Linked DNA regions of Homo sapiens: regions 2, 3 and 4 are each linked to region 1. The links come from fine-mapping of genetic effects on gene expression. A gene starts in region 1. Each other region holds a variant in brackets. All regions are shown on one strand. Distances are from middle to middle.

Evidence for each region. PIP is the estimated chance that this variant, and not a neighbour inherited with it, causes the effect.
Region 2: its variant is the best candidate, but not a certain one, in a credible set for the expression of RECK in whole blood (INTERVAL, PIP 0.51).
Region 3: its variant is the best candidate, but not a certain one, in a credible set for the expression of RECK in whole blood (TOPMed, PIP 0.65).
Region 4: its variant is the best candidate, but not a certain one, in a credible set for the expression of RECK in whole blood (INTERVAL, PIP 0.62).

Annotation. Positions count from the first base shown.
Region 1 is chr9:36,031,540-36,039,483 of GRCh38, reverse strand. RECK (reversion inducing cysteine rich protein with kazal motifs) reads right to left here and starts at 2,571. Exons shown (of 21, transcript NM_021111.3): 1 at 2,386-2,571. The coding sequence starts at 2,485. RefSeq lists silencers at 2,292-2,441, 2,452-2,651.
Region 2 is chr9:36,142,642-36,150,585 of GRCh38, reverse strand. It overlaps GLIPR2 (GLI pathogenesis related 2), which reads right to left. Exons shown (of 5, transcript NM_022343.4): 2 at 2,692-2,800; 3 at 1,936-2,039. Among named protein-coding and RNA genes, the nearest start is that of GLIPR2, 9.9 kb to the right of the region's middle. RefSeq lists enhancers at 1,611-1,690, 2,031-2,080. The variant C/T (reference allele first, on the strand shown) is at 3,668.
Region 3 is chr9:36,124,218-36,132,161 of GRCh38, reverse strand. RECK (reversion inducing cysteine rich protein with kazal motifs) reads right to left here. Exons shown (of 21, transcript NM_021111.3): 21 at 7,707-7,944. Among named protein-coding and RNA genes, the nearest start is that of GLIPR2, 8.5 kb to the left of the region's middle. The variant G/A (reference allele first, on the strand shown) is at 5,906.
Region 4 is chr9:36,077,376-36,082,375 of GRCh38, reverse strand. It overlaps RECK (reversion inducing cysteine rich protein with kazal motifs), which reads right to left. Exons shown (of 21, transcript NM_021111.3): 7 at 1,738-1,771. Among named protein-coding and RNA genes, the nearest start is that of RECK, 43 kb to the right of the region's middle. The variant C/A (reference allele first, on the strand shown) is at 2,657.

The DNA.
Region 1 (7,944 bases):
TAATAGAGGGGGTCAATAACCTGCAAAGCCTTATACCAGAGCAGACAGAAGTACCCAATCTTGGATGCGGTTAAGAAGGGAAGGAAGACTGAGCAGGAATACAAGCAAAGCCTTCACTGAAATACAATTTTATATTGTGTTCTTAATTCTGTTTAGGATTGAAAAGCATTTTCTATACTTTCTACAATTCACAGTGGAAGCCTTTGTCCATTATATTACTCAATGTCCTTTAGTAAGGAACCAGGCAATACATGCTTCCTAGAATTTAGTATAAGGAACATGTCTCACTTTTAGATCAAACTTGGAATTTTTTTTTTTTATCAAACAATGCAAACTATATGTTGTCATGAACTTTTAGAGCTTAGAAGGGCCTTTAGAAATCAACTAACCCAGCATTTTCTGAAGTGCGCTTTAGGTGTTATGAAGAAAAAAAGAATTTTATGAGCAAACAAGTTTCTTTCTTTAACAACTTTATTGAGCTACAATTTGTATACCATGAAATTAACCCTTTTAATATGTACAATTCAGTTGTTTTTAGTATATTCACAGAGTTGTGTAGCCATCACCACTATCTAATTTTAGAACATTTTCATTACTCCCAAAAGAAACTTCATACTCATTAGCAATCACTGCCATTCCCCCAGCAAAAAAGTTTCTTGTTTTTTTTTTTGTTGTTTGTTTGTTTGTTTTACCACAGGAATCCTTGGACCCTTTATTGTGAATCTAATGTGTTTTGTGAATTTATAAGACAGGGTACCATCTGCAGTATTTCCCGAACATACTTAATAGCTAATATTTCACTGCTTACTACGCTAAATGCTGGACATGTATTACCTCGATTCTCATAATAAAATCTGTGAGGTACCATTTATAATAAATGTGGCTATTTGAGCACAAAAAGATTAAAGCTAAGTAATTTGCTCAATGTTCTTAACCACTCCACTGTACTACCTCCTGCAGAACTGACTGGTTGTGGGAGGAGAATGGACAACTAGTATTTCATAATTTTGTAAGTGTTTCAGTTCAATCTCTTTTAATTTAACAGGGAGAAAAATGGGGCCCAGGAAAGTAATCTGATTTAGCCAAGAATACACAGCATTTTCTCTTTTATTCTTTGGGATAGTTTACAGCTAAATTTGAAACCTAGCTATAGTTAATACCCCTGTTGGAACTGACTTTGATTTTTTTTTGAGACAGGGTCTCACTTCCGAGGGCAGTGGCATATCACTGCAGCCTCAACTTCCCGGGGCTCGAGCAATCCTCGTATCTCAGCCTCGCGGGTAGCTGGAACAACAGGCATACACCACCATGCCCGGCTAATTTTTGTATTTTTAGTAGAAACGGGGTTTCACTATGTTAAGCAGGATGGCCTCGAACTCCTGGGCTCAAGGGATCCGCCCGCCTCCACCTCCCAAAGTGCTGGGATTACAGGGGAGAGCCTACCGCACCCGGCTGACTTTGCTTTTTTTTTTTTTTTTTTTAAGGTGTCTCTGCCTGTCTCCCTGTAAGCAATGCACTTCACCACTTTTGCATGCACACGTCCTAGCCATCTTTCAATGTCTAGTACAGCTAGGGGGAATCACTCCACTTTCCACTCATCCTAGGTCGATGTCCTCTCTCCCTCTGTGCACTCATACATGGCCCTTCATTTCCTCTGGACATTTCTGCCTTGAATTCGAGTTACTTCAATCTCCTGCTGTACCCCATCTCCTACCGAGAGAGCTTTTGGACGGAAGGAGTCGGCGTGCACTCAAAAGGCCAGCAAGCGGGAAGCAATCAATAAGCACTTAACAGTTTCCTATCCATCCTTGGTTTAGTTCTTGTAGAGCAAGAATTTCTCTCCTCAAGCCTGCCAGCCCCCGGGGGACAGGGTTTACTGATTTTTAATGTCTCCTGCCCGAGTCCAGGACCCACCACGCGGGCTGTGGGGACCGTCAGTGCTCACCGCCACCAAGGTCGTTATGAACCAAGTGCGGGTCAAGTAACAAGTAACAATAACTAACTAGGGCCGCGGTAGGGCGGCTGCGTATCCGAAATCCCATCTAAACCTCGCGACGATCCTGGGCGGGGGCATCGCACCCTTTTCTGACAAGCAGCAGAGGCAAGCGAAGGGGTCAGTGCCGAAGAGGGGGCCCGTGTCGGTGGGTGACAGACCAAGGCCTCAAACCCGAGTCACCGCCCAGAAGATCTTGGGGCGGAGAGAGTTCCTCACTCGCCCCGCCTCGGCACCAGCCTCTGGAGCGCTGAGACCTGGGGTCCCGGGGTCGCCGGACGTGGGCAGGGTCTGGGGGTCGCGCGCACCCCCGCCCCCTGCCCCGCGCCATCTTGGAGCGCTGTGGCGGCCGCTCCCGACAGCTTCGAACCGTTGCTCTGGAGGTTACTCACCCGCACTGCCCGGAGCCAGGCCCCCTGCCACCTCCGCGACCCCCGCCACGGCCAGCAGAAGGAGCAGCGCACCTCGCAGAGAGGCCCGGACGGTCGCCATGTCCGGGCCGGGCGGCTCCAGAGCCGCGGGATGCTCGGACCCAGCTTGGCCGCAGCCGCTGCCGCCGCTACCGCCGCCGCTCGCGCGAGGCCCCGCCCCCAGCGCCCGGCCCTTTGGTGACTGGCTGCGGCCCGCTCAAGCCCCGCCCCCTGCCTCACAGTGTTTCCAAAACCTCCCGGGGGCGGGAACGTGCCCCGTACCAGGGCTCTTTGTTATGGCCCAACTGTGTGTCGGCTTCTGCCAGGAGTCCACCAGCCCACGTTCTCCCAGAGTGAAGTCAGAGGATGTCAGAGCTGGGAGAGTCATTAGAAAACCTCTGCCACCTCCTGAGGTTTCGGGCCACTGAGGTGAGAGAGGAGACTGACCTTACTCAAGATCACACTGCAAGTTCACCTGAGAACAAGGGCTTAGTCCAAGGCCGAACCAAAGGGGCTTCTCTCCTTCATGTACCCTCAGTAATACTCGCAATATTCTTTCTGCCGAGACGCTGCCTCGCACCCAAAGAAAGCATGTCACCCGGGATCCTTCGGCCTCCCGCAGACACGGCCCCCTGACAAGGGTTCATCACTAGAGCTCTTTGGCACTATAGCCTCAATGTGTCTTTGTTGTACTTTAAAAATTATTTATTTATTTATTTAGGCAAGAGTCGCTCTGTCGCCCAAGCTGGGGTGCAGTGGCGCGATCTCGGCTCACTGCAACCTCCGCCTCCCGGGCTCAAGCGATCCTCCCACCTCAGCCTCCTGAATAGCTGGGACCACGGGCGCAGGTGACCACGCCTGGCTAATTTTTATATTTTTTTTGCAGAGAAGGGGTTTCACCATATTTCTCAAGCTGGTCTCGAACTCCTCGCCTCAAGCAATCCCCCAGCCTCCTCCTCCCAAAGTACGGGGATTGCAGGCGTGAGCCACTGTGCCTGGCCTTGATGTTACTATTAAGCACCTATTCCTGATAGGAAAAGAGGATAGGAGAACGCTTGTATACCTAGATGTGGAAAGCCTTGAATATCCGGCTGAGAAGTATAGACTTTGTCCAAGAGACAAGTTGGAAGTGGGTCCCACCCCACCCATCAGCCCAGCAGCTACGTGGAGAATGTTTAAGCCACTGGCTAGCAAAGCTAATTCATTGTCTCTTTTTTTCTCTGTGTGTTCCTGAATTAAACCCTTTTTCCTCCTTTTTTGAAAAAGCATGACCACCGTTTTAAATTCTCATGAAGACACCTGGGGCTAAATTACTTAAAACATTTTTAAAATTCCTTAATATTATTAAATATCCAGTCATTATTTACATTTTTCTTATTGTCTCATGATTTCTTTTTACAATTTTTCAAGTTCTAAACAAAATCCATATATTAAAGTTGGTTTTTATGTTTTTGGGCTCTTACATTTATCCTCTCTTTCGAGTTTACAAAAGGAAAACATGAATAAGTTAAAATATCTAAAACATCTCCTCTGATGACTCTGTTGCTTCTGTGTACAAGGTAAACTGAGGCACAATAAAATTTTAAAGTTTACTTCAGCACGCGGTGATTCATGAATTGAGAAGCTGCAAACCAGAAGTGGTTCTGGGGCTCAGCTCTGTCGAAGAAGCAGATTTTTACAGAGTGAATGGGAAAGTAATAAAAAGAAAATATTTGATTGGTTACAGTTATAAAGTTGCCTTATTTGGTCTATCCCACTAAAAAGCCTCTAGTTATACAAGTTTGTGGACTACTTCTGATTGGTTGAGCTTGTTCTGTTTTTCTTTAATATATGCATTTACAAGAAATAGCTCAGATTAACTCAAGTAAGTTTAAGGTCACTTATGAGGACTAAATTGACTATCTGCTCAGGAATTCTGCAGACCTGGTCTTCATTTTAATTTATTTTAACAATTCCCCTCTGAGAGTAATAGTACCACTATTGACACAGTCACTGGGCCAAAGAGTCATGATGCTATCATTATTAACAGTTGCGGCTGGGCGCAGTTGCTCATGCCTGTAATTCCAGCACTTTGGGAGGCCAAGGTGGGAGGATAACTTCAGCCCAGGAGTTTGAGGCCAGCCCAGGCAACGTTGTCAGACCCCCATCTCAATTAAAAGAAAAAAAAAAATAAGTAGTTACATTGGGATGTAGAATCACATGTAGGCTTTGGCAGTTGGGGTAAGTTCTTCAAGTTGTCTAATCCTGATGGCAATCATTTGATGTGTGGCTGCTGGAAAGCATTAAAACTCTTGACAGGGGCTGGGCGCGGTGGCTCATGCCTGTAATCCCAGCACTTTGGAAGGCCAAGGTGGGTGGATCATGAGGTCAGGAGTTCAAGACTAGCCTGGCCAACATGGTGAAACCCTGTATCTACTAAAAATACAAAAATTAGCCAGGTGTGGTGGCGCGTGCCTATAGTCCCAGCTACTCAGGAGGTTGAGGCAGGAGGTTGAGGCAAAGTAGACCTTATTTTTTAGAGCCGTTTTAAGTTGACAGCAAAACTGAGTGGAAAGTACAGAAGGTAGACAGTCCCTGCCCCCACATATGTAAACCTCCCCCCACTGTCAGCATCCTGCACCAGAATGGTACATTTGTTACAATTGATGAGCCTACATTGACACATCATCAACCAAAGTCCATAGTTCACATTAGGATTCACTCTTGGTGTTGTACATTCTGTGGGTTTAGACGAAGGTGTAATAACATGTATCTACTCTTATTTTTTTTATTTTTTAAGATGTAGCTATCAGAAAACTTAAAATTACACGTGTGAGCCCAAAGTGAACCACAAATGTAATTATGTTTTTCCTGAGACAGGGTGTCCTTCTGTTGCCCAGGATGGAGAGCAGTGGCACAGTCCTGGGGCACTGCAGCCTTGAACTCCTGGCCTGCAGTGATCCTCCCACCTCAGCTGCCTGAATAGCTGGAACTACAGGTGCATGCCATCATGCCCAGCTAATTATTTTATTTTATTTTTTGTAGAGATGTGGTCTTGCTATGTTTCCCATTCTGTTCTCAAACTCCTGGACTCAAGCAATGCTCCCGCCTCGGCCTCTCAAGCTGTTGAGACTACAGGCATGAGCCACCATGCCCAGCCCCAATATGCAATTTTAAGCACTGTAAGAGTAGTGTAATTATCTTTCATTCTAAAAAAAGGTTAATGCTTAGAGATGAGTACGATATTTTAAAGAATGTTACTCACCAATGATTTTGTTTTGAGCCAAAAAACCATGGTTCTCAAGGTCTTGCACCTTTCCTCCTCTTCTTCTATCTCTGACTTCAGTTCCTACTGTTTCTGTCGTGTCCAGCCATCACCTCCAGCCAATCTTGCTCAGGGCCTTTCCCTAACTGCTCCATGTAACTCCTGCCTCAGGACCTCTGTGCTTGGAGTTCTTTCTGCTTGGAATTAATTTCTCCCAGATAGTTGTACACTCTCCCTTTTCTTTTTTAGGTCTTAACTCAAACGGCCTTCCTTAATTGCCCTTCTTAAAATTAAAACTCAACCCCACCTCTGAACTTCTTCTCCCCTTTCACACTTTATATTTTCAAAAGCCATGATTACCTTCTACCATATTAATAGGTTCTAATATATAATATTATAAAATATACTACTTACTTTCCCAAAGTGTTGCTTGTTTATTATTTGTTTCCTTACTTCATGAGGGCAGATATTTTTGTCTGAGACTACAGACTATCCTTATTTCTTTTATACATACACACACACACACACACACAAACTTTTTTTTTTTTTTAAATGAGACAGGGTCTTGCTCTGTCACCCAGGCTGGAGTGCAGTGGCATGATCACAGTTCACTGAAGCCTCAACCTCCCAGGTTTAAGTGATCCTCTCGCCTCAGCCTCTTGAGTAGCTGGGACAACAGGTGTGTGCCACCATGCCCAGCTAATTTTTTTGATTTTTTGTAGAGACGAGGTCTCACTATGTTGCCCAGGCTGGTCTCGAACTCCTGGGCTCAAGTGATCTTTCTGTCTCGGCCTTCCAAAGTGCTGGGATTGTAGCTGTGAGCCACCATTCCTGGCCAAATATCCTCATTTCTTAATTGCTTCCTGCAGCAGAGCCTGAATCTGTTTCAGAAAGAGAAACTTTTAAAATTAAGAATATGGCAGATGTTTAAGTAGTTTTAATTAAATAGGAGTATTGTTTTTTAGAACTTTTGCATAGTAAATTTCTAAAGCCAATCTTTAATGGAAATACTTTTTCTGACTTTGTTTAGCCTGAACATATTTGATCATGATTAATTGACCTAGCTTAATAAGGAAGAGGTCCATTTTGAGTTAGTTAACTAAGACTTTATGGCATCTGATTTCATATGTGTACAGTAGGACAATTTTGTGAAATATTAATGTATTTTCTGTTCCCAGTAATTCCTTCATTAGAACTAAAACATGAGGGCAAGGCATTCACATCTTCAGAGATGATCATTAGAGTAGAAAAATAGTCAAAGAGGACAACTCCTAGCTTTTGGTTTTAAAAAACATACACTTAAAATTTCAGGCAGAGACAATGGCTTTAAAGAGAAAAAGCCTTTGAAATATCAGAACGTGGTCTATTTTATAGCTGAGAGCATAAAATATTTGTATGAAGAACAGACATGGAAGAATACTATGATTAGTCAGACACAGTCCCTCCTACCCCCTCAGTCCCCAGCAATTTGATTCACTCTGATGTGGAAGGAGGAGAGCCACTGGAGGAAAAGAAGGCGTCTCTGGTCTCCTTCTTCTGATGCAGTGGGGTGGGACATAGAATCCCCAGAAAGGCTTGAGACTACGAGATAAGAGGGGATCTGATTCTCCTTGCTGTGTGGAGCTCAGGAAATGACAGACCTCATAAAATTCATCTGCACTTAACACGATGTAGGTATAGAGTAGAAATGGCTGCAAATGTGTCCTGTTTCATGCTCCACACAGAAGAGCAGCCAAATGTTTTTTTGCCCCTCAAGAGATGCAAGGTAGGAGACAGCTGAGAGCCTGAAGCGACCTCAAGATTGGAATGAGGAGGCTGTATCTGTTATTTGAATCATCTGTACAAATGGATACCAGATGAGAATGCAGATGTCAACAGGGATTGATGATGATGACTGAGGACCACATGTCCTGTCTTCTTCTCCAGTCCCAGTTGCTGGCTTTGGCTCTATATAGACCTCTCAAAGCTGGGGAGGGGTTTGTGAGAGGCCTTGACTAAACTGAGATCCCACTGAACTTACTGAGATTTAGTTTTAGTCATTCGGCAGGAAGGGGATATGCAGAGTCAACTAACTGTCCATTGAAGATTTGATCACCCCTTCTAGAAGTGGTTGCTTGAAAGCAACTACCAGCCAGAGACATTTTCCAATTGCTAGTGTGTCATGTTCACTGTTAATTTAATAACTGGGAGTAAGGCCTTGGAGAACGAAGGGTCCCTGTGCCTCGGAGCAGAATTGGCATATCTAACATCCACACTGATGCCTACAGTAAGATCTAAGAGGAGGAAGAAAAGCCCTA
Region 2 (7,944 bases), 110 kb before region 1:
TAATCCTGGGCAAAGCCTTCCCTCTCTGGGCCTCTGTACAATGAAAAGGTTGAATGCAATGTACTGCAAGGGCCTTCTGATGATGCTCCGAGTTTCTAGGAGACTATACTGTCATCTCACCCCATTTGCAGCTCTTGAAACATCCATATTTGGAAAGACAATCAGGCTGGTAAGCCACGGATCTCCACTGTGGGCAGGAGGGACCTCACCTGGGGCATCCACTGTCCCCACACGTGTTGATATGGGCAGGCGTTTCCCTGGGAGCTGCTGCTCTCCGGGCCAGAGCCAGGAGCGGGGACCTCAGAGCAGTCAGTCTCAAATGTGTGCAAGAATCTTGTTAATGGGCAGATTCTGATTCAGTAGGTCTACAGAGGGACCTAGGATTCTGCATTTCTGCTTCCAGATGCTACTGCTGATCCATGTTCCACACATCAGCCTCACCTGGAGAGCATTTAACAAATACTAATGCCTGGGTCCTTCCTCAGACCAACTGTGTCTGTCTCTGGAGGAGAGACTCAGGCATTTTTTGTTTGTTTGTTTGGTTTGTTTTGTTTTCTGAGACGGAGTTTCGCTCTTGTTGCCCAAGCTGCAGTGCAATGGCGCGATCTCAGCTCACGGCAACCTCCACCTCCCAGGTTCAAGCGATTCTCCTGCCTCAGCCTCCCGAGTAGCTGGGATCACAGGCATGTGCCACCACGCCTGGCTAATTTTTCTATTTTTAGTACAGATGGGGTTTCTCCATGTTGGTCATTCTGGTCTCAAACTCCTGACCTCAGGTGATCCACCCACCTCGGCCTCCCAAAGTGCTGGGATTGCAGGCGTGAGCTACTGTGCCCAGCCTGGTATTTTTTTAAAGCTCCACAAAAGATTCCAATGTGCGACCAGAGTAGGGAAGCACTGTCTCAGAGACCACCTACCCAACCCCCTCTCTGTAGAGATGGGAAACTGGGGGCAGAGGAGGGAGGGACCTGCTCAAGGCTCCCGAGGGAGGCTGTGCGAGGCTGGAATGGACCATGTCTCCTGAACCTATGCCCTTCTCCCGGGGCCCATCGAGGGCCACAGCCTGGACTTGGGAAGGAGCCTGCAGGGTGAGGGCAAGGCCTTGGAGGGAGGGGTGGGTAGGGGGTTCCCCAGGAGTTCACACATGCCTCCCAGTGGGGGTGCCAAGGACCACGTTGCACAGGAGCCCTGGCTTAGGCTGTGCTGGGGAAACCAAGAGGACTTGGGGGATCTCCCAGGAATGTGAGGCTGGGGAGGGAGTGAGTCATTCTCCCACTGGTGTTTGGAGAAAGCTTCAGAGATCCAGACAGCTCTCCAATATTCTTCCTAAAAAGCCACATCAGGGCTGTCAGGGCCAGAGGGCCAGGAAGCTCAAGAATGTCTGGGCAGCATGGTGGGATCATTCCAGATCGAGACCTTGCATGGAGACATTGTCTTTTCCATTATTATTTTTTTTTCCAAAATGGAAAAAGCTCTATTGCTTTTCTCCTATTATAAAAGTAATACACCAGCACTACTGGTAGTGTATCACCAGTACGGTAAGAAAGTAAAATTTCTCGGGAAGAAAATAACATTTCTCAGTAGCTGGGGATGCTCTGGTGGACACAGAATCAGGCTGAGATTCTGTACAAAAGCGGTCTGTCTCCCCAACCCCCACTCCTCGGCCTGGGAGCTTCTCCGAAAGTGGGGGCCTGGTCAGTCTGACTCATCTCTGTGTCCCTGGCACCCAGCACAGGCCTGGCACTGAGCCAGCCATCAGAGACCTTGTGGTGAACTGAAGTCAGCCTGGGAGCAGATTCAGAGAGCTCTGGTTTTTCTTTCCTTTCCTGGGCCTGTGGCTACACCACGAGGGTGCTGGGGCCAGGAGGCATTTCAGGAGGACTTGTCCTTCTTCCAGCTCCCGCAGAGAGGAGAGGAGCTGAAAATGCGACCCACCTGTCTGATCATAGGATGCCCATGCAAGGTTCTCCCCACACTGGCCACGGCTGGACTCCGGGCTGTGCTTGAGGATCCTCGTGCTGGCCAGGGCCTCAGAATACCTGCAGAGTTCACAGCGCCTCCTCAGAGCAGGTGCAGTTCAGGGAACCCCCAAAGTATGTGCCCCAAGCTAGTGTGGCTGAGCTTCCTTCCCTGCCCCGGGCTCACAGAGGAGCACCACTCTTGCATGATTTCTGAGCCTCCCAGCAGTCCCATTCCACAGAGGAACAAGTCGAGGCTCAGGGGAACTAAAAGGACCTGCCCAGGTGAGTGAGAGAGTGGTTATTCAAGTGTGGTTATATCTGATCCCAAAACCCGGTCCCCAAAACCATGCAGGGCCCCCCAACGTTTTTTTTTTTTTGAGATGTTGTCTCACTCTGTCACCCAGGCTGGAGTGCAGTGGCGCAATCTTGGTTCACTGCAACCTCCACCTCCCGGGTTCAAGCAATTCTCCTGCCTCAGCCTCTCGAGTAGCTGGGACTACAGGCCCATGCCACCACACATGGCTAATTTTTGTATTTTTAGTGGAGACAAGGTTTCACCATATTGGCCAGGCCAGTCTTGAACTCCTGACCTCAGGTGATCCGCCCGCCTTGGCCTCTGAAAGTGCTGAAATTACAGGTGTGAGCCATCGTGCCTGGCCACAGGGCCCCTTTGTGACTGCAGTAGCAGCACATGAAGGGCCAAGTTACCCGGATGTGCTAGGGGACTCACTGTTGAGCCTCCCGGTTGAGGTTCTTGCAGAGCTTCAGTGGGGGGACGCCGTGCTTCTGCCGGTACTCATTGTGGGCCTTCAGGACCTCATTATGAAACTGTTTGGAAGCTGGAATGATTGCAAAATGGAGAATGGCTCAGTGCAGAGAAAACACTCATCAAAAGTATAATGGCATGCTGAAAGCAACACCCAGCTCAAACCTTAGGCCATGTGGACAGGCTGCTGCTCCCCTCCAACACCTGGCACCCCAGCCAAGTGGCCCTGCTCCACGCCACTGCTCACCCTACCTGGCATCGCGCTCCACATCTCTGCACATCTAAAGCCCGTGGATCATGTGGGGCCTTATGGGCCCTGTTAGGCATTTGGGTCTTTATCCAAGGCAATGGGAAGCCACTGAAAGGGAGCAGGGCAGTGAGCTCCATGTGTTTCTCAAAGACCTTGCTGGCTGCTGAGTGGAGGATGCACAGAAACACAGAGCAGATTTGGGGACCTGGACAGTCAGCAATAGGACTTTGGAAGTAAAATATCTGAAGGAGACCGGGTATCTCAGGCTGGACCTAGGGAGAGCAGAGGGGACTGGAATGGGCCAGAGCTGGGAGTCCAGAAAGAGGCCTCCTGGCTGGGGAGGAGGGCACCTATGCTGGGTGGGTGAAGCCAAGGAGACAGAGAGACAGACAAAGAGACGAGGGAAGGACAGCCCTGGGGAAGCAGAGTGTGAGGGCGAGTTTTAGGTGCTGACTTGACTGAATTAAGAAATACCTCGAGAATTGGTAAAGCATTATTTTGGGGTGTGTCTGTGAGAGTGTTTCCAGAGGAGACTGGTGTGTGAGTCTGAGTGGGGAAGATCTACTCTCAACGTGGGTGGGTGCCATCTAATCAGACAACCTGGGGACCCACACAGAAACCTACTGCAGGGGCAGAGCCACCGCAGAGTCCCCACTAGGACGGTGCCTAATGGAGCTGTAGAAGTGCAGC[C/T]GCCCCAAGACCCCAGAACTGTGGAGCTACCGGCATGTAACGCCCGCCTGGGAAGGCTGCAAGCACGAGGCTTCCACCCGAGAGCTGAAGCCGGACAGCCCTAAGCCATGGGGGTGGGGCTGCCTGAGGCCCTGGGGTCCAACTCCCACTCAGCATGCCCAGGAGGCAGGAGAGGGAATCAAAGAGGATTATTCTCCAGCCTTAAGATTGAATGTTTTCCCTACTGGGTTGTGCACTTACTTGGGACTGGTTACTTTCTTTCCTATTTCTCCCTTTTGGAATGAGAGTATCTATCCTATGCCTGTCCCACCAATGTATTTTGGAATAGATAACTTCTTTTGATTTCACAGGCTCACAGCTGGAAGGAATATGTCTCTGGGGGAATTGTGCCTTGACTCTCACCTGTATCTAATTTAGATGAGACTTTGGACTTTGAGTTGGTGCTGGAACAAGTTAAGACTTGGGGCTATTGGGATGGAGTGAATATATTTTGTAAGTGGGGAAGACATGAGTTTTGGGGAGCCAGGGGCAGAATGCTTTGGTTTGAACGTCCCCTCCAAAACTCATGCTAAAATTTAATTGTCAATGTAACCATGCGGAGGAGTGAGATCTTTAAGAGGTGATTAGAGGGCATTATCACAGGACTGGGCTCCTGGTAAAAGTATGAGTTTGGGCTGATCTTCTCCCCGTCTTGAGTGCTTACTTGCCCTTCTGCTCTTCCATGGGATAATGCAGCATGAGGGCCTCGCCAGATGCCAATGCCATGCTCTTGGACTTCCCAGCCTCCAGAACCGTGAGCCAAATAAACTGTTTTTTAATAAATTACCCAGTGTAATTTATAGCAGCAGAAAATGGACTAAGATGCAGAATAGGAGAAGAGTGTAGCAAAGAAAGTGGAGTTGGTGGGAGGGTGAGTGGTATGATCAGCAGGCCCAGGGCTGCAGTGGGGGAAAAGGTGAAGCCCATGCCCAATTAGGTCATGATCTCAGAAAGGGCAAAGTCAAGGAGGCTGTGGTTAGGGAGAGAATAAGTAGGTGAAGCCAAAAGCAAGCAAGATCAATAGTGAACAGAAGCCATACCAATTTGGATCTGAAATGATCCCCATCCATCCATCCATCCAACATCCTCGAACCATCCATCCATCCAACATCTTCCATTCATCTGTCCATCCACCATTCATCCAACATCATCTATACATCCATCCAACATCCTCCATCCATCCATCCAACATCCTCCCTCCATCTACCCACCCATCCACCTAATATCTTCCATACATCTATCCATGCAACATTGTCATCCATCTAACATTACTCATCCATCCAGCATCATTCATCCATACATCTACCATTCATCCAAGGTCCATCCATCTATCCTCCATTTAACTGTTCATCTGCTCTCTGAGTGCTTCCCCTGTGCCATGTCCCATATTGTGTGCTAAGGGTCCAGAGACAAGTCAGCCATGTGTTGCTCTCAAAGAGCTCCCATACGGAAGGGAGGCAGCCTTGTAAACAGACACTAGCCATGTGATAGGTGCCAAGATGCAGGTAAGCACAGGTGCAAAAGGAACTTGGAGATTAACCTAACATGGGATCAGGAAGGAGGCAACTCCCAATATGAGGCCCCAGAAATATCTGAACAGGGGCTAGCCAGCCAGGCTATGATGAAGACACTGAGCACCATACTCAGGAATCTGGGAGTTCCTTTCTCTGGAAATGGGGGTGAGTTGGATGAGTTCTGAGTGAGGGCCACAGAGGGCCCTTATGCTGAATTGGTCCCATCAGGCCACAGGCTTGTCCCTCAAAGACTGGCTGTGGGTAGTGGCAGGAAGGGTGTGAACCATAAAGGAAGTGCCACTCTCTTCCTCTGCCCCAGCTCACCTTCACTGGTGCCTTTCTTCTACTCTGCTGCCTTTCACCCGAGACTGAGGAGATGATGCAACAGGGAGTCCTAGTCCCTTTTCTCATAGCCAGATCTCCCATGTCTCCTGGGCCAAGTCAAATCCCATGGAATTTCTGAGGAGACGTGAGGGAAAGAAGACCCAGGGCTTGCCTTTGCGGGGTTTGGGGGCTGCAGACCCGGGAGCTACAGACCCAGAAGGTGAAGGTAACTGCAGGTCACACCTGCATGGTGGAGCTGTCCGTGGGCCTTCTGAGAAGGAGGAAGTAGACGCTTAGACAAAGAGTACGCGGCGCAAGCTCTAGAACTTGGGCTCAGTGAGGCTGTCCAGTGAGGTCCAGTCAGAGTAATGTGGGCAGGGCAGGGATATGGGGGCTCTGAACCCCAGGATTTGTGAGGTTTTGGTTGACAGGCAGAGGTGGGGAGACATGGAGGTGGAAACTGATCATGGGGACAGGCATTAAGGCAGAGGGCGGAGCTACAACCTGAAGTATCGGGACTTCCTGGCCAACAGACGGACCAAGCCCTTGTCAATAGGAAAAACAAAGATTTCAGGTCTACAGTGGAGAGGAGAAAAGGCAGAGGTGTTGTTTAACATGTATAGAGTTTCAGTTTTGCAACATGAAAAAGTTGTGGAGCTCTGTTGCATAGCAATGTAAATATACTTAACACTACAGAACTGTACACTTAAAAATGGTTAAGATAATACATTTTATGCTATGCATTTTTACCATGATAAACAAAAAGATTTCAGGGTTAGCATGGTAATGTGGTATTTGGGATAAGGAGTCAGAGAGGCTTTTAAAGAATATCTCACAGGGAAATGCCAGGGGCCATAGCAACTCATGGGACCCAGATGGGGGTCTCGTTGACCAGTTTAAGAAGGGTCAGCTGGGTAGCATGGCCTCCAGGAACCCATGGGTTCTTGGGCCACGGGCTGCTTCCCCAGCCTGGTCCCTGTTTTGTGCAAGAGGCAGTGGTGATTTGAGGTGTGTTGAGGCTGGAAGAGGGGTCTGATGAGGAATTGGTACAAGGATGGGGGATGTTCAGCCTGGAGAGGATCAGCCTCTGGAAGACACGGTGGAGGCCTCTGATGAATTCTGGGGCCCCAGAGGGGAAAGCTGGGGCCAGTGGGTAGAAAGGCAGGATGACAGATTTCAGCTCAGCCTAAGAAAGATCTTTCCTAGTCAAAGCTTTCTGGCGACCAAAAGGAGCTACCTCACAAGGTAGTGAGCTCTCTACCACTGAAGGAATTCAGGCAGGTGAGTCCCTCTTGGAGGGACTCAGGCCTGAGAGTCAGAGGACCTTCAAGTCCCTTCCAATCCTGAGATCCCATAAGGTCCTGCTGGGGTAGGAGTGAGAGGAGACAAGATGAACAACTGACCCAAGACGTGCAGGAGTTTCCCAAACAAGCTTCTCTCAGGAGACGCTGATCAGAACGAGTGTGAGTGTGCGGGAAAGGGCCCGTATAGGTGACACCGCAAAGGTGACGGGGGTCCCCATCTGAGTGGCAGGGTTGTCCAGGCCCATCCTAAAGTCCCTTCTAGCTCCCATGTCCCAGACAGGCCACGGTGGGTCTCGTGGGACACCACGGGAGATGCATGAGGCTGAGTGGCACGTGCAGTGGTGACCACAAATGCGTCAGGAAAGGAGGACTCCCTGGAGGAGGTGTTCCTGGCTCAGGAAGCATGAATGGAGGAGGCAACAGCACAGAAAGAGCCAGGATGAAGGGACCACGTGTATCCTGGGGCTCTGAAGAGGAGGGGGAGACAGAGGAGTAGGTGGCTTGCTAAGGGGAAGCCAGTTTAAAGGCAGCCTGAGTGCTGGAGTCAGTTTGCACTGGATCCCATAGTGCTGGAGGCCCTCAAGTCTCCTCGGCAGAGAGGGACATATAAGGCCGCTAAAAACTAGGTCACTGCACTCCCAGAATATGGGAAGTAAAAAGAAACAAAAGTGAAAGTTCCTGTGTCCAAGCAAAGCTCAATGCCCAGAAGCTGCAGCTAGGCACTGTGTCCGCCAACGCCAGGCTCCTGAGCCAGGGTTCTCTGGAAGGGGCCAGGAGGTCTTTCTGGTAATCGGTGGTGGGGGAGTCCTCTCTCCCCACTCCTGGCTGGGAGGCATAAGGGCCCCACAACCACACCTTGGGCAGCCCCAGGAGTCCCCTCCCACCAGGCAGCCAGTCCTAGCCCAGGTGGCTCCTCTGAGAGGGCCTGCCCCAGGGAGGCAAAGTTATCAGTAGCTGCCACACCTAGCAAGAAGCACACCCTACCCCCACCGAGAAAAACCCAAGAATACAGATAAAGAGGAGGAAGAAAAAGTCAAAGAAAAGTCGTCCATCTCCCAGTTAGGCAGGGAGAGCCCTCCCAGCCACCCTACGATGG
Region 3 (7,944 bases), 93 kb before region 1:
ACTGGCAGAAAGTCTCCTTATTTTATCCTGTTATGCTTTCTTTATTATTGTGGTTAGAAAATACATGGGATGCAGCCAAAGATGTACTTAGAGGAAAGTATACAGCATGAGAAATATGAACATCGGTTGTGAGTTAGACCTGGGCTCAAAATATCTTGCTCTGCTTTTCTTTTTCTTTTTTTGAGATGGAGTCTTGCTCTGTTGCCCAGGCTGAACTGCAGTGGTATGATCTCGGCTCACTGCAGCCTCTGCCTCCTGGGTTCAAGAAATTCTCCTGGCTCAGCCTCCTGAGTAGCTGGAATTACAGGCGTGCGCCACCATGCCCGGCTGATTTTTGTATTTTTAGTAGAGACAGAGTTTCACCATGTTGGCCAGGCTGGTCTCAAACTCCTGACCTCATGATCTGCCCTCCTCGGCCTCCCAAAGTGCTGGGATTATAGGCATAAGCCACTGCACCCGGCCTTGTATACCCTTCCTAAGAGGGGAATATTTGACTCTGTGCCCAGAGGGTTGAAACCTGTAAGGAAAGAAGATTCACCATCAAAGGACTGAGAAAAAAAGTACAGACAGTAACTTCTTATAACTTAATACTTCCTTGACTTGAAAATAAAGGGATTTTAATGAAAAACTCCCTCTTATTGGCCAGGCAGGATGGCTCATGCCTGTAATCCCAGTGCCATAGGAGTCCAAGGTGGGAGGATAGCTTGGGGCCAGGAATTCAAGAGCAGCCTGGACAACATGGCAAGACCCTATCTCTACAAAAAATTAAAAATAAATAGCTGGGTGTGGCGCACACACCTGTAGTCCCTGCTACTCAGGAGGCTGAAGTGGGAGGATGGCTTGAGCCCAGGAGCTCAAGGCTGCAGTGAATTCTGATCATGCTACTGTACTCCAGCCTGGGTAATGGAGTGAGACCCTGTCTTTAAAAAAAAAAAAAAAAATTAAGTCTCTCTCTTTTTTTTTTTTTTAATTTGAGATGGAGTCTTGCTTTGTTACCCAGGCTGGAGTGTGATGGCATGATTTTGGTTCACTGCAACCTCCGCCTACCTGGTTCAAGCTATTCTCCTGTCTCAGCCTCCTAGGTAGCTGGGATTACAGGTGCTTGCCACCATCCCAGGCTAATTTTTGTATTTTTCGTAGAGACAGGGTTTCATCATATTAGTCAAGCTGGTCTCAAATTCCTGACCTCAGGTGATCTACCTGTCTCGGCCTCCCAAAGTGCTGGGATTACAAGCATGAACCACTGGGCCCAGCCAAAAAGTCTTTTCTTATTGACATCTTTTTCTTAGAATTCTGAATCTTACATGCATTGACTTATAAAAATAGTCTATTACCTAATTTGGGGTCTGGAGGGAGAAGATTCTCCCCTGATGTCTGATTTAAAAATTTCCCTAAACTGTCCTGAAACATGAGAGTTAATTTTTTTAGTTAATTTTTTTTTTTTTTTTTTTTGAGATGGAGTCTTTCTCTGTCACCCAGGCTGGAGTGCAGTGGCACAGTCTCGACTCACTACAACCTCCGCCTCCCAGGTTCAAGTGATTCTCCTGCCTCAGTCTCTCGAGTAGCTGGGATTACAGACCTTACAGGCATGTGCCACCATGCTTGGCTAGTTTTTGTATATTTAGTAGAGACGGGGTTTCACCATGTTGGCCAGGCTGGTCTCAAACTCCTGACCTCAGGTGATCCACCTGCCTCAGCCTCCCAAAATGCTGGGATTACAGGTGTGAGCCGCTGTGCCCAGCCAGTTAGTAAATCTTAAATATTATTATATTACTTATTTAAAAAGAAAAGTAAAGCACTGAACTAAAGGAGCTAGACAACAAAAAATAAGTGAAAGGAAAGAAACATAAAGAAATAGTGAATGAATGCGGAAGTGTTTCAGGGTAAAATGTATTGATGTTTTCAACTTACTTCGGAATCCATAAAAAATTAAATGGATTCAACTTTGAAACACATAAAAGGTAAGATGGATGGACAGAAGAATACATGGATAAATATAAGCAAATACAGGAAAATGTTTCTATAATAAGATTGCTATAAGATGTTTAAAATTGACTAAAGCAGTTAATGTAGATAAAAACAAAAAATTATATAGTAGAAAACAGATAAAGAGCAAGATTGAAAAATATAACCTAGAGCTGGAAGACATATCAAATAGATATATCACTACAAAATCAAATGAATAAAGAAGTCTAAAAGAAGAGAAAACTCAAATGTACCACATTAGTAATAAAAAGGGGATGTAATCTTTTTTTAGAAGTGTTCAGAAAAAACATATAGACAACTGCTCACTAATAATTTTCCTTAATTGGGCAATTTTCTAAGAAAATACAAATTATTAATATTTAAGAAGAGGAACCAGGCTGGCCAATATGGGGAAACCCCGCCTCTACTAAAAATGCAAAAAATAGCTGGGCATGGTGGCATGCGCCTGCAAGTCCCAGCTACTCGGGAGGCTGAGTCAGAAGAATCGCTTGAACCCAGGAGGCGGAGCTTGCAGTGAGCCGAGATCGCGCCATTGCACCCAGCCTGGACAACAAGAGTAAAGCTCTGTCTCAAAAACACAACACAACAAAACAAAACAAAACACCCGCAAAAACAAAAATACAAAAAATTAGCCGGGCGTGGTAGCAAGCCCCTGTAGTCCCAGCTATTCGGGAGCCTGAGGCAGGAGAATCACTTGAACCCGGAAGGCGGAAGGTTACAGTGAGCCGAGATCACGGCCACTGCACTCCAGCCTGGGCGGCAGAGAGAGAAGACGTCTCAAAAATAAATGAAATAAAATAAAAACTAGCTGGGCATAGTGGCATGTGCTGATAGTCCCAGCTATTTGGAAGGCTGAAGCAGGAGGATTGCTTAAGCCCGGGAGTTGGAGGTTGCAGTAAGCCGTGATTGCACCACTGCACTCCAGTCGGGATGACAGAGTAAGACTGTCTCGGGGAGAAGAAAAAAAAAGAAATATATTCACAATATTAATAAGTCAAAGAAAAATATACTGTAAATGGATGCTGGAATATATTTGATACAATTGAGTATTTATTACTGAGTTTAAAAAAACTCTTACTTTTCCATAGCAGAATAAAAAGAAGTCCCTTGAAACTAACAGTAAAACATGTTACGCTTAAAGCAAACATGTCATGCTTCACAATAAAACAATGGAGACATCCCCATTAAAATCCAAAACACAACAAGGTTTCTTGCAGTCCCCACTGCTATTCAATATTGTTCTGGGAGTTCTAGCCAATACTAGAGCAACAAGAAGAAATAAGAGGTATCTTATCTCTTTGAAAAAGAAAGAGCAAAGTTTTCATTATGGCTTCTCCCTGGAAAAACCTCAGAAAATCCAATAAATATAAAGTAATATGAAATTTAAAATGACAGCCAGGGGGTCCAAAAAATTTTAAAAAATCAATTGCTTTATTACATAGTATCAATAACCAGTTGGACTATGTCATGGGGGAAACATTTACAATAGCAACCACAACAACGAGTTTCAAAATCACCCAATATGGGCTTATTTCACAAACACACGACCAAATCCGTTTTATCATGAGGACTCTCTGCTCTGCTCACACGTGGCCAGACTGGGCCATTGTAGGAAGAACATGAATACTCGCCATGAGGATGCGTGCCTGCTGTGGGGCAGCTTCCTGATGATGAAGAAGGTGAGCTGGATCCAGGCGTCCACCTTCCCCCTACTCCCCTCCTTTTGGGGCCAGAGCCCAGCCCTCCACTTCAGAGCCAGCAAATCCCGGGCAGAAGGAAGTTTCTGCAATAGCCTGCACTAGTGCACTGCAGTTCTGCTCTAGGCTTTTGGTCAGAAGAGTGCCAGCAAGAAGGGGGACAAGAAGGGGCATGGGGCCTGGACTGCTTTCTTGGGTTGCAGAGGGCTGACGAATTCTTAGGGAGCTGGGTGGAGGCACTGGCAAATGTGGGCTTGATAAAGGGCTGTGAGAGGAAGACAGAGAGGAATTGAGGAGGCTGAGCAAGGTCAGGAAGGAGCATTCAGCAGAACATGGTCCAAAGGGTTAAGCCGAGAGCCCTTTCTCCAAAATGAGTGGTGCAACCGACTGAGTGCTCTTCTTGGTGTCACCCTGGCCTGCTGTGCTGGGTATCTTCTTTTTGCTCCACTTCCTTCCTTATTTCCACTCTCTGCCCTGATCTCTGCCCCAGAAGGCTGACCTGTATGACTACCAGCACAGGCTGCCTGGTCCTTGGGTTTTCAACTGGGTTCCCAGTGGGAGCTGTGAGAGGAGACCCAAGGGAGAGAAGCAATGGCTTCTCCGTTAGGCTTAGGGGTTAGAGGTGCTAACAGCTCCACTTTGAGGCCTGGCGTGTTGTACTATGCCTTGTGGTTTCCCTACATCCTGCCCACACCTTTATAAATAGCCCCTTTATTAAACTTTCCTCCAATTAATCCTAATTTGGGTGGACCATTCGTTTTCCTGCTAGGACCCTGACCAACATAAATGGTTAGCCTTCTTCTTCTTCTTTTTTTTTTTTTTTTTTTTGGATGAGACAGGGTCTCACTCAGTTGCCCAGGCGGGAGTGCAGTGGCATGATCTTGGCTCACTGCAGCCTCAACCACCCTGGCTCAAACCATTCTCCCACCTCGGCCTCCCAAGTAGCTAGGACCACAGGGACATGCCACCATGCCTTTGTATTTTTTGTAGAGATGGGGTTTCGCCATGGTGCCTAGGCTTGTCTCGAACCCCTGAGCTCAAGTGATCTGCCTGCCTCAGCCTCCCAAAGTGCTGGGATTACAGGCATGAGCCATCGCGCCCTGCCTAAGTGGTTACACTTCTGTTTGGCAAAGCAACTGGTTGCATTTGCAGTAGAGTTCAGTGGGAGATTGGTCTGGAGAAGACAGAGGAGGTGGTCTTTAGGAAAAGACCCACCCCCTGATTACCTGGTGGGTGTTGGCCAAGATAGGGCTTCCACCTATGAACCTTTAGGCAAGGATGTACCGCCCAGTAGACAACATCCCAAATATGAAACCGTTTCCCTCAATTTCCCCGCACAGGGCAGTGAGGTAACCACCTCCTCCCCATTGCAGACAGAGGAGGTACCTTGCCCTGATTACAGAGAGAGATAGATATGTACAGAGAAGGCTCTAGAAGGATTCTGCACTTATTTGTAGAGGCAGGGAGAGGAAGGTATGGGATTTTTTTTCCTTTATTTATATTTCCAAGTACTTGGGGGAAGGTGCACACGTAACTTTTACAAGGAAAAAACAATACAGTGAACTTCATTTTGGAATAATGGAAAAGTGGGTGGAGCCAGGGGACAGAGTGTTCACCCTGTGAGGCTTCCTTCCCTACCCTCTCCACCATCAGCCTAATGCCCTGAGGCTGGGCTCTAGAATGAAACTCAACCTTAGACTTGGCATTTGCTCTCTGTGTGAGGCGTTTTGCTTTGGGCCGGGAGACAACATGGTGAAAAGCACTCCCTAAACTGCCCTAGAAAGTGAGCTGGCGAACTGTGTCAGTTACTTTTTATGATTCCTGATGCTCCTTGAACCTGTTTGCTCAGACCCACCCAGGCTCACCTGGCCTTGGAACTGTTTCACTCTGCTCACCTTCTGGCATCTACCTTCATGGCAACCTCCTTTATGGCCAGTTCCATTTCTGAGAAGTACAAATCCTGCCTGGCTGCCTTGTGCCAGGGAAAGCCTGGACCTGGCCTCTGGCCGTGGCTTCACCCTGACTCCCTGTGTAACCACAGCTTGGTCCCTGTACTCTTGGTTTCTCTCTGTGTGCACCGTGGAAATCTGCCCTCCAGCCCCAAGATTGCTGGACTGCTGGAAGGACTGGCTCATCCCTGGGAATGACGCCTCTGCCTTCACTTTCTCTCAGCTTGCAAAGTGCACAACTCAAGCCTCTTCTGCAGCTGGGAGGCAGGGAAG[G/A]AAAGGCCCCTGCAGCGGGGCCTCCTGTCCCTCTGAGAATTAGAGCACCCTCTGTGGGAGTGTGTGGGCCTGACTCCCATCAGCCCAAGGCTGAAAGAGAAGCATTGAATCAAACGAAGGAAAGTGCAGTTTCTTCAGTGACGATCAGTGTTCCTGGTGGGTTTAAGTTTCCTCCCACAGTGGAGCTGAAAGAGACCCTGGCTGAACTCTAAGGGTGGGGACCAGGCCTAAGGGAACCCTGGCCCCCAGCCTGCTCAGTTATTATTTCCTCAGGAGAGTCCAGGGTGCTCACAGGACAGAGGGAAGCACTGCCTAGTAACAAGATCAGTGGATGGTCTTGAAGGTCTCGTGGCACTGAAGTTTGGGGCACACAATCCTTTGCAGGCTAGAGCTATCCAGGCTGGTCAGTGTAGCTGGAAGGGCAAGGGCAGAGGCTTAGGATGCCACTGTGGCCTGGCATTCAAGCTGGGCACATCGGATCTGCCTTATACTTCCCCACACCACGCCCCTCACAACATGTCAGCCCTGCTGTTCTACCCCTGGAACGGACCTGGACTCTGTCGTTTCTGCACCTTTGCTCAAGCTGTACCTCCTACTTAGAATGCCTTTCTCAAAGCCATCTGGCAAAGTCTCCTGGTTTCTTCCAGGCCTGGTGCAAACCAACCCTCTTTTCGAGGGCTTGCGTCTTCCCCCTTGTTAGATGCTCCCTCCCCCAACTCACACCTCCCATGGCAGGTTGCCTGTACCATTTGATCACCTTCTCCAACCTGTCCTATTAAACGCCTTGCATTTTCTTTGAGATGGGTTCTTGCTATGTTGACCAGGCTGGAAACATCTACTTCTCTAATAAAAAATCTTGTCAGTCCTGGCTATTGTCCTAGCCTGATGAGAAAAGATGTCTATGGTAGACAGTGTTATTCAAAATACTTACTGTCCCTCCCCCAACACACACAAAACACCGTGGGAGGACTGTATGTCCCCACCCTTTGAACTCTGGAGTGGCCATGTGACTTGCTTTGGTTAGTAAAACGTAGAAAGAAATGACAGCATCACTTCCAAGCAGAGAATTCAGGGCCAGCTTGTGGTCCTCTATGTCTCTTTTCTGCCCTTTGTGAGGACGCTGGAATGGGTCTGGAGTGAAGATAGTATCAGGTGTGGCAGCTGACCCACAATGGACATGTGAAGGGAACAAAATAGAAGCCTCTGTTGTAAGCCACTGAAGTTTTGGGGACTTAGCCTAAGCTGATTGGTACCACTTCTCTGGTCCCATCAGCAGCCCTCCATCTCCATATTCCCATGGTCTCCCTGCCCCAGGTGTACCCTGGAACTGGAACATCAGGACCAGCACAGTGGGGAGAACTGCCTAGTATGCAGTCTTGGAAGGCCTGAAGCTCTCTCTGTCCTTAAGGCTGAAAGCTGGGGTCTTTGTATTTGACTCTCTGTCACTGCCTGCCCTCTGGTCTGACCAACTGTGTCCTAGCTGGCCTGTTCTCCCAGGGCCCTTGGCTTGGGATAATAGCACTCCATGACTTCTTTTTTTTTTTTTTGAGACAGGGTCTCACTCTGTCTCAGGTATGAGACAGGTTGGGGTACAGTGGTGTGATCTCAGCTCACTGTAACCTCCACCTCCCAGGTTCAAGCGATTCTCCAGCCTCAGCCTCCCAAGTAGATGGGACCACAGACATGTGCCACCATACCCGGCTAATTTCCATGACTTCTTATCCCCGAGCAAAGGACACAGCTCACCTAAGGGTGATCAGTGGTTTCCTTTTTGAATGTCAACATTGCTTAGAAGCATGCATGATCATATAAAAATTATTTTTATTAAAATAGAAAAGCTTTCCAGTATATTGCATTAAAGACATTTATACAGAAAAAAGGCAATTGCAACAAGCATGCTACATCAGCACTGACATATTCTGAAAGCTTTAAGTGCCCATTTTTCAGCAACATTTTGGTATAATACGCATATCCCTATGTATTTCAGAGGGTACATATAATACTGAAAAAATACTTCATGTAAAATCTAAGTTCATGTG
Region 4 (5,000 bases), 44 kb before region 1:
CCCATCTATACCTAAAATACAAAAATTAGCTGGGTGCAGTGGCATGTGCCTGTGGTCCCAACTACTAGGGAGGTTGAGGTAGAAGGATGGTTTGAGCCCAGGAGGCGGAGGTTGCAGTAAGCCAAGATCTCGCCACCACACTCTAGCCTCAGCAACACAGCCAAATCTTGTCTCAAAAAGAAAAAAGGAGAGAGAGAGAGAGAGAGAGAGAGAGAGAGAGAGAAAGCAGGGAGGAAATTCTTGATAATTATTAGGGATAGATATGGAGGAACCAGAATCAGGTTTCTGGTGAATTCCAAAGACCCATGAGCAGGGATTCTGGTGACTTCCAGAAATAATGATAATGATAATAATAAAGTCATAACCAAAGAAACTGAACTAGGACTGAACTGATATAGGACAAGTCTCAGTTTCCCAGACCAGGAAACTATTCCATACCTACTGTACCGCCTCTTTTAAACTTGCAACTACTACCAAACTTATTGTGTTTATTGCCAAAGAGTTCATTTTCTTCACAAAGAACAAATTTTTTTTTTTTTTTTTGAGACACAGTCTCACTCTGTCCCCTGGCTGGAGTGCAGTGGCGCGATCTTGGCTTACTGCAACCTCTGCCTCCTGGGTTCAAGCGATTCTCCTGCCTCAGCCTCTCTAGTAGCTGGGATTACAGGCACGTGCCACCATGCCCAGCTAATTTTTGTATTTTTAGTAGAGATGGGTTTTCACCATATTGGCCAGGCTGGTCTCAAACTCCTGACCTCAAGTGATCCACCTGTCTCTGCCTCGCAAAGTGCTGGGGTTACAGGCATGAGCCACAGCGCCTGGCCAAAGAACAATGATTAATGGCTGCATTTATCACTGTAAACCTCAGTGAGGATACATTGGGGGTGGTGGTGGGGAATGGTGAGGACATATAAGAACAGACACATAGGAACAGGACAAGATGCCTATCTTCTGATTCCTCCATTCAGCTGGCTTTTTCACCAGTGTGGGAGGACATAAGATTACATGCCTGAGACTACCTGGAAAATCTTGAACTAAGCCTCAGTTAGAAAGGATAGAAGATAAATTACAGACAGCAAATGTTTCTTATTATCCTTCAATATACTTTCCTGCTGAGCTAAAGAACTCTTTGTTCCTTACATGTGTTTTCCCATGTCTGTCTGCTCTCACTGTTCCCTTCACCTGTAAGCCCTTCCTCCAATCTCCATTTCCTTCATTCTCCACTGTTCACATCTTACCCATCCTTCATGCCCGGGATCAGCTACCAACTCCATGAAGCCACCTCTAAGTACCCCTGCAGAATATGATCCCTTCTTTCTCTGAACTCCTGGAGCACTTTATCCAGTGACACTATCTCATATCCTACCATATCCCAGCATTCTTTGTGTACAGGTCGTGTCCTCCACAGATGTGTGTCTGCCCCACACTGACCAAGTACTCAATCAACGTCTGTTGAATGAACTGAGACGTAGCACTCGGCAAGTGCTACATTATATAGCATGGGTGTACTTAACTTCTGAAAATGGGCCTATTTATTGGGTTGTGATCATCCTCTAGCACACTGAGCTTTAGTATCTGCATTGTAGATCTACAGTTAAGACATGGGAATTGTTATAATACATGAATGACCTAAATACACCATGGGAAAGAGCCTATCGGAATCCTGCTGTGCACATTGCTTCAGATGGCTAATTATATCTTTGGACTGTTTGTACAACCATTGACAAATATACTTACTTTCATTTCTGCTAATGCAACTGAAAAGAGCATTCTGTAAATTGAAGAAAAACAAATAAACAGAAATTAACAACCAGAGAGAATTTGTAATTTAATTCCACTTTATGGTTACATGGAAATCATGATATTAAAACTATTTAATTCTTCCCTAAATCCAAGACTGAAAACACAGAAGTTATGAAATGATATTCTGGTAAAAAGGGAAACCATCTTCCAACATATATCAGGATCAAGATGACTACTTGGAGCCATAAGCTGACCAGTTATAGCAAACCAAGTTTATGTAAAGCTGTAAGTGTGTGGGAGGGGCTACAATGTATTAATCTTAATTATTCCTTGCAGGATATAAAAACTTTCCAGAAAATAATCTAATAAATGACATCTAGGGAAATATATATTTCATGTAACCACTGCATTTTAGATTTGAAAGGATTTTAGACATTATCTCTACTTGTTCTCAAACATGGCTGTACACTGGAATCATCTGAGTTTCCTAGACCTTACCCTAGACTACAGATTCAGAATCTAGGGGTGAGGCACAGAAATCTAAATTTTAAACAAGACTTGAAATACAGTTTTTTTATAGCCATCCTGGGACCAGAGTTTGGGAATCTATCATTTTACAGATGAAGAAACTGTTTCCTCAGCAGGGTAAAAGAGACCCGCCCCAGGTAATAGAAAAAGTCAAAAGCGAGTTTGAGACTATAATTAGTGTCTCTAGAGTGCTTAGATTATTGTTCAGAAAACACCACCCTGTATTAAAGTCAATGTAAAGAAAATAAAACCCAAAACAAGACAAAAATGAAAAACTTATACAAAGCCATTTGGATATTTAGGGCTTGTCAGCTATGAATAATAATCAATCACAATGGGAGGATAATTACTTCCTAAAAGAAATAATATGGGCATAAATTACAGG[C/A]AGAAGGAAATCAAGCACACCCTTATTGTTGAAACGAGACGATTTTGGCTTTTAATTGCAGCCATATTGCAAGCTGGCTAGGTGATGGGGATTTGTTAAAGGATCAGCTATTGGCATTTAAAACCTAGCTTCAAAGATCCCTCTATGTAGCTGTGTGAAGCTGTATTCATTCATTTTCTCTGCTAAATAATATTCCATTGTAGGAATATGCCACACTTGATTTAACAATTTAAAGCAAAATAAAACAGAAAACCCTGGGCCTCATAGATAAGGGTTCCTCAATTCACCCAGTATGAATTCTTTCTGCTAGAGACTCCATCAAGCAATATAACAGGAGTGAAAAAGTAAATATTCTTAGTGTTCATTAACAATGATCTTGTTTATATCTCTCTTCATTCATGTTTCCTTCTTTTAGTGTGACTTTTCAGTTATGCATTATAGATAACTCTCTATTTAAATGGATTCACTGGACTCAGGAACACTTTTAAAATGATCTAAATCAATATTAAAAAGTAGTCAGCTACCAGCTGGGCGAGGTGGCTCACACCTGTAATCCCAGCACTTTGGGAGGCCGAGGTGGGAGGATCACCTGAGGTCGGGAGTTCGAGACCAGCCTGAAAAACATGGAGAAACCCTGTCTCTACTGAAAATACAAAATTAGCCGGGCGTGGTGGTGCATGCCTGTAATCCTAGCTACTCAGGAGGCTGAGGCAAGAGAATCACTTGAACCTGGGAGGCGGAGGTTGCAGTGAGCCGAGATCATGCCACTACACTCCAGCCTGGGAAACAAGAGCGAAACTCTGTCTCAAAATAAATAAATAAATAAACAAATAAACAAACAAACAAATAATAAAATAAAATAAAATAAAGGTAGTCGGCTACCAACTTTCTAGCCCTCTTTGACTGGATGAATGCAATTCTCATTGCTCTTTTCCTTCTAATAAGATCTTTGTTCCCTTTGGTTTGGCTTTTTTTGACCTTGTACCTGAATAAATATGTTTGATAACTTGGTGGCTATCTTGGGTTGCATGGCCTGATTTTCTAGTATTTGATATTTTTCTAGTTATTTTTGAACTTTCCACAGAAGTGGTTTTCAACTAGGGGTGATTTTGCTTCCCATGGTACATTTGGCAGCGCCTGGAGACATTTTTGGTTATCACAACTGAGGGGTGGGGAGTGCTACTGGCATCTGGTGAGTAGAGGCCAGGCACACTGCTAAGCATCCTACACTGCACAGGACAGTCTCCCTCCCGCAAAAGATTATCCAGACCAAAATGCCAGTGGTGCCAAGACTGATAAACTCTGCTCTAGAGACTTATACATTTGTTCAACCTGGATGTTTAAAAAACTGACTTTACAAATAAATGTCACTGTGGTTCAGCCTGTGGATCACTTAGCTTCAGGGAGAGGTACTACTAAAGGAGATAAAACCTGCGAAATGTGAGAAATCATCTAGTCCAACTTCCTTATTTAATAGAAGTCAGAGGCCAAGGCCTAGAAAGGGGAAATACTTATGGACAATAGCTTTTACTCACAACAGGGGCTGGCAAACTATGGCACACAAGCCAAATCTTGCCTGCCACCTGTTTTTGGAAATAAAGTTTTTATTGGAAGACAGACATGCCCATTCAGTTACATACTTTTAAAATTTTAATTATTTTTTTCATTTACCTACTTTTTTAAATTAAAAAATTTTTTTTAAGACACAGGGTTTTGCTATGTTGCCCAGGTTGGCCTCCACTCTGCTGCCTCCCAAGTACCTGCGACTATGGGTGCATGCCGGCTTATTTAGATATTTTATATGGCTACCTCACGCTAAGCACACTTCTATGGCAAAGTTGAATAAACAGAGAGTGAATGATCTCCAAGCCTAAAATATTTGCTGTCTGGCCCCTTACAGAAAAAGTCTCCCAATACCTGAAGAAAAAGGAAAACGGCACAGTTGCTTCCCTTGATGTCACATCCAGAGTTCAGAGATGTTCTTCAAGCATCTCTTATTTCTCTTGATGTTCATTAATAGACCTTTTGTGCCTAAGTTTACCTGAATTTGTTGAACTAATCTTTTCTATTTTCACATGGCAGCATCATGTGAAAATTACCATTAACCACTAACACTTTAGTGTTAATACCATCTTGCCTCTTTACCCATTTTAAGGTTCAAAAGAATGTTCCTTCATTCCAGTATACCAGCATTTGATGAATAAATTCTGTTACACCTATCATGATTTAATAGACTGATCATATCTCCCTCTTTGATGAATGACTCCTAAATTTACTATATGTAACTCTATCTTTTTACCACTTTAATACTGCTGATTAGTCTGAGAGGGCTTAGGACATACAC